2 separate regions of the Homo sapiens genome follow, and region 1 is linked to region 2. A link means that fine-mapping ties the variant in region 2 to the expression of a gene that starts in the linked region. Tissue or cell type: whole blood. Region 2 holds a variant in brackets; the other region holds the start of a gene. All regions are shown on one strand. Distances are between the middles of the regions.

Region 1 (2,901 bases), 27 kb after region 2:
GAAGTTAAGTTTAAAGCAGCGGTCTTGTTTTTATTATTGTCACTTTATGTGACCTTGATTACCTTTTAGGGAGGGCATCTACTCTGGGATTCATGACAGTCTGCTATGATGCTGTTGATGCCCCTGAACTCATCTTGTTTTGTAGCTCTTCCATCCCAGCGAATGCTCAAGGCATGAACAGAACACATGCTAGGCCAGGTAGAAGGTCAATGAGGAGATGGCATCCCACGCCCTTCACTGTTCAAAGCCAGAGAGGAACTATCTAGAAATTCAAGTGTAAAGAGGATGTCCATGCTGGTTGTGACATGTGTGTTCACAGGCCTCATGCCTTTGCTTTTCTTTTGAAAAAGAAAGTGACAGAGACCTGGGGAGATGCTGTGTTAGGAGGGCCCCTCCTACTTTGGGCTCAGGAATCTCACCGCCTAAGGGACTTCCTGGGTGCTCAGAGGTACAGGAAGCAGAGCGCTCTGTGTTCACAGGTGCCCGCTTTCCTCCTCCCGACTCGCCGGTGCTTTAGGGCAGATCTGGATACTTTGGCTGATTTTGGGAAATGTTCTCTGAAGTTAGCCACACGTTAAGCCAGGCTTGAGGCCTTCACTGTGGTCACATGGTAGCTCCAGAGGTTGGGATGGGGGCTCTGGCCCCTTCAAATCAGCGGAGTTAGGAAGTATGCTCTCACCAAGAGGAATGCAAAGCCCACCTGCTCCAACCTCATGCCCCAGTCGGTGGTTCTCTTGTTCGTTCTTCTTTCTCGCCCTTTGTTCTGTACTCGCGGGCACTGGAGTCTCTTTATCCATTTGGCCATCGGTTCCCCTCTCCATTTATCTGTCACACCCAACTGTGCTTCCATCTGCCCTCCATCCCTCCTTCTCTCCTCCAGCCATCTGCCAGCCTTCACTCCATCCTTCTGACTGCTGGTATGTCTGTCCATCCCTCCTTCCCTCGCACCACGTGGGTCTGGGGCTCCATCCCCTGTCCCATCCATCCCTCCATCTGTCCCTAGCCTGCCGCTCCATCCCGCTGCCCTTTTGCATGGCTGCAGAGCCAGCCCGCAGACCGTTCCCCGGTCCCTCTCACCCCCGTGGGCCCTCTAGCCCGTCCCCGGCCGCCACTCCAGGCCAGGCCGTCAGTCTCCCACGCTGGGCCCGCGCCTGAGCGGGATCGGCCCCCCATCCCTCCGTGGGTCTGTCTTTGTTCGGCGGCCCCGGCCCGGCCGTGCCTCCCACGGCCCCTCCGCGCGGCTCCCAGGCCCTGAAGGCGGCGGGCGGCGGGCGGCGGGCGGCGGGCGGCTAGCCCGGGGCGGGGCGGGGCGCGCGGGGCGGGGCGGGGCGGGGGCCGGGGGTGACTCAGCCGCGCTCGCCCCGCGGTCCGCGCGTCCGCCGGCCTTGCAGGCGGGGCGGAGAAAATGGCGCTGCCCCCGGCCGCCGCGCCCCCCGCCGGGGCCCGGGAGCCGCCGGGGTCCCGCGCCGCCGCCGCTGCCGCCGCCCCCGAGCCGCCGCTCGGCCTGCAGCAGCTGTCGGCGCTGCAGCCTGAGCCGGGCGGGGTCCCGCTGCACTCGTCCTGGACCTTCTGGCTCGACAGGTGAGGGGGCGCGGGGCCCGCCGCGCACGGCCCCGACCCGGGTCCTGCCGCCACCGCCGCTTTGTCTCGGCGCGGCCCCTCGCCCCGGCCCCGCTCCGCTGTGGCACAGACCTCGGCCCCTCCGCGCGTCCGCCTGCGCACCCCGGGACTCGCCCCGCCGGGTCGGAAGCCAGCTTCGGGCCGCGCCGGGCGGCTGTTCGGCGTCCTCGCCTCCGGGCCGGGGGAGGACAGCGCAGCCCGAAAAGTTTCGGCAACACTTTCTACCCCTTGTTCCCTTCCGATCGGAACGCGGCGTGCTGGCAGGGCCGTGGGAGAGGGTAGGCGAGCTGGGGGTGGCCGCGTCCCTGCTGCAGGGAGAGGGCTGTCCTGCTTACCCCGCGGGGCGCCTGGGAGCTCAGGACACGACCTCAGCTGTGACAGCGCTCGGAAAAGTTGCCCATCCCTTGGGAGGTGTGCGGTGGTGCAATGATTATTGCACGGCGGGCGCTCCCACCCCGTGTCCGGCCGCTGCTGCCGTGGACTCCTCTTCCAGTTCTTCCTCATCCACTGGGCAGGTATTTCCTGAACACCTACAGTGGAGCCACACACCTGCTATGCGCTGGAGATTCAATAATGAGCAGCAGCTGACCTTGTCAGGAAGGGGGTGAATTATGGCTTTCTCAAGGGACAACCCAGGTGCCATCTTTTCAGAAAGACCCCCTGACTACCGTATCTAAAATAGAAACCTTGCTCCCTCGTTTTGTATTCTCCTGCCCTGCCTTCTTTTTCTTCCTAATGCTTAATGCAGCTGGATTTTATTATATATGAATTTGTTTACTTTCAGTCTGTCTCCCCAGCTCCTCAACACCTCCCCTCAGTTAAGGATAAAAGAGCAGTGGATTTTTGTTTTTGGACATTTTGGACCTAGAACTGTGCCTGGTCCCTAGTAAGAACACCAGAAATTGTTATGAATGAATAGATGGATGAATGCAAAGCCCCTTCTTAGTGTCTGCCCTGCAGTGGGTGCCCAATGATGACACCTCAAGGTTGTCCCAAGAGCATTTGGAAATTTTGATGAAACCGTGTCTATTCTGGCTAAGTGTTAGGAAGAAATGTGTGACAGTGTTCTGAGAAGTTTGCTTGGTACACACAAATCTGGTTTTAAAAGGCTTTGCATAAAATGACTGCAAGATTTTGTTTTAAAAAAGTGATATTCATTTTTTTTTTGGTTAAGACAAGCTCATTTCTTTTTTCCTTTTGGGTTCTTATAGCACCCGTCTATAAGAATTGTCACTTGCTGCCATTTTCTTTGCCGGAGACCCAAAAAAGTTGGGGGTGGGG
Region 2 (2,901 bases):
CTGCGCCCTAGGCGCCGCGGGCTTCACTGCGGACAGGGCCTCGCCACCGTCCGCAGCCCCCCGCATCCTCCTCCGTCTCCTCCTACTCCTCCGCTGCTGCCGCCGCGCCTCTTGGCTCTGCCCCCCGCCGGGCCCGCCGCCGCCGCTGCCGCCGCTGCCGCCGCCGCCGCCGCCGCCGCGGAGCCCCCTCCCCTCCGCCGGAGCGCGCAGCGCGGCCGCCGCCGCCAGCCCCGCCGAGGCATCCCGCACCGCCTGGGCCCGGCTGGGCTGGGGGCGCCTCCGCAGCAGCCGCGGGGTCGGGAGGCGGCCGGGAGGGAGGCAGGGCCCAGGACGCAAGGTGGCGACAAGTCGCGTTTGGCCCCAGGTAACGGGGGTCCGGCGGCGGCGCCCGCGCTGGGGTCACGGTGGCCGTGCGCGGGGGAGGTTGCCTGGGCTGGCAGGGTCGGGAGGCCTCAGAGGGGACAGGAATATCTGGAATGAGCCTTCTGCCCGAAAGCTGGGAGTAATTTACGATAGTAATAGTCATCGTAATCCTAAAACCGCTGATACTCAGGTGCGCACTGATGTGGGTGGCAGTGTGCTGGGGAGCTTGGCAAGCATTATCTCCCTCAACAGTAATCACGAAGTTGTTGCCATCCTTAATCCCACTTTATACCTCAGGAAGCAGAGGCTTGGAGGTCAAGGGAGTTGAGAGCCGGGAAGTAGCGGAGCTGGGATTCAAATTTCGCTTGGTCTGATTTCCAGTGCTGGACTCACAGCGACTCCGCAGCATCCCCTGCTCGCTAACTCATCCGTGATCCCGGTGAAGGACCTATATCAGGGAAAAGAAATGCAGCATTTCATCTTTAAGTGACTTGGAAGGTGAACCCTATGCCACCTTCCTCCCAGGATATCTATTTTCTGGGTAAGCCTGAAAGGGCAGCCCCTGTTATGATTCTCAGACACACCGCATTTGTCTCGCAGGACCTTGCATGTGCTGGTACCTCTGCCTGGACCAGCCCCACAACAGGCTCCCTCTCCGTAGGGCCTCCTTCTAACCCGTCTGTTTTACTCTGTATCCCTGCCCTCTAGTCATTTCCTTCTTAGCACTTATAATTTGTCATTATATACTTTCATTTCTTTTTAAAAATCATGCTCTTCT[A/G]ACTAGGCTCTAAGCTCTTTGAAGGCAAGGGATCATGCCTGGTTTTTGGTACCACTGCATCCCCAGTGCTTAGCATGGTAAAGCCAGAATTAAGCAACGCATTGTTTCTCACCCACACTCATTTGTTTTTTCTTCTGTGCAGAAAATTATTTGTTGCCTACTGATTACATGCAAGGCAGGCACCTTGATGGGCATTTTCAGGATAGTGCAAGATCATAGAGGGCCTTAATGATCAGGCTAAGAAGTCGAAACTTTAGTCTGCAGGCAGTCAGGAGCCCTTGAAATCTTTTGAGAAGGGGAGCGACATGACTAGGTGTGCTCCAGGAACATTATTCTGGCAGCAGTGTTGAGGAGGGATGACAGAGCAGAGCCGGTAAACCTAGTCCAGAGCCTCAAACTTCACTATGTGCAGAAATCACTGGGGACCCTGTTAAAATGAAGATTCTGATTTAGTAGTTCTGGAATGGGGCCGGAGGTTCTGCATTTCTAACAAGCTCCGGGGTGAGACTAATGCTGTTGGTCTGCTGACCTTACTTTGAATAGTAAGGCCCTTGGGGACAGTTTGGATATTTTTTTAAAAATCTAAGTGATTTTTCAAGAAAATCAACTATTGAGCACCTGACTTGGGACTCCTAAGTGGCCAGCAGCAAGTGGCTGACCAGGCACATCTGTAAATGTATGTTGATAGAAAATAGATTTTGGAGGGTGTATGGGTTAGGAATTGCAGTTTGATACTAGTAGCAAAAAACGTGTACATGAGTTTATTTTCCTCGTGAAAGAAGAAGTTTGGAGGTCAGTAGTTGCTGACATTGATTTATTGGCTCAAGGACTGAATCTCTGAAAATCTTTTAGCCCTTCCCTCATGATCACAGTAGGCTGCCGACGCCCCAGCCATCATTTCTTCATTCCAGGCAGAAAGAAGAAAAGGGAAAAGAGCAGCAATATTCCAGCCATCTAAGTAGGAAGAGCTTTCTAGAAGCCCTACATTATAAACAAACACTTAAACATATCATTGGCTATCAATTGAGAGTGAGCACTTGAGCAAGGGAGGGTAGGAAATGGTTTCTTATTTCTTTGTTTAAAGTTAGACCCATGGCTGTAGAGAATTCGATCCTGCCTTGCTGTGGCCCTTAGCGCTTGGGCTGCCTCTGCCCAGAGGAGGGAATGCCTTCTTAATAACCCACACAAATTCACCAACTCTGGTTGCTTTATGGTAATACTAATGGCAGCCACCTTTTACTGAGCACTTGCCGTATGCCAAGCATTGTGCTAAATTCTCGACATGTGTTATTTAATGTAATCATTGTAATGGCCAGATGTGGTATGTGCTGTTACTGTCTTCATTTTGCAGAGGAGGCAGAAGGGTTAATTTGTTCACGCTTTCACCACTTACACTTACTTTACACTTACTTTCAAGTAAGTGTAAGAGCTGGAAGTCTGACTTTATTTATTTTGAAACAGGGTCTCACTCTGTCACCTAGGCTGGAGTCAGTGGCATCATCATGGCTCACTGCAGCCTCAACCTCCCAGGCTCAGGCCGTCCTCCTATCTCAGCCTCCTGAGTAGCTGGGACCACAGGCTTATACCACCATGCCCCGCTAATTTTTAAAAAATTATTTGTAGAGGCCGGATGCGGTGGCTCACACCTGTAATCCCAGCACTTTGGGAGGCCGAGGCGGGTGGATCATGAGGTCAGGAGATCGAGACTATCCTGGCTAACACGGTGAAACCCCGTCTCTATTAAAATGCAAAAAATTAGC

What was found.
Region 1: EIF4E3 starts here. The variant in region 2 is fine-mapped to the expression of EIF4E3 in whole blood (TOPMed, PIP above 0.99).

The regions. Positions count from the first base shown.
Region 1 is chr3:71,723,872-71,726,772 of GRCh38, reverse strand. EIF4E3 (eukaryotic translation initiation factor 4E family member 3) reads left to right here and starts at 1,371. Exons shown (of 7, transcript NM_001134651.2): 1 at 1,371-1,581. The coding sequence starts at 1,406. RefSeq lists silencers at 1,647-1,716, 1,847-1,966.
Region 2 is chr3:71,750,926-71,753,826 of GRCh38, reverse strand. It overlaps a transcript of EIF4E3 not described here. Among named protein-coding and RNA genes, the nearest start is that of GPR27, 1.5 kb to the left of the region's middle. The variant A/G (reference allele first, on the strand shown) is at 1,142.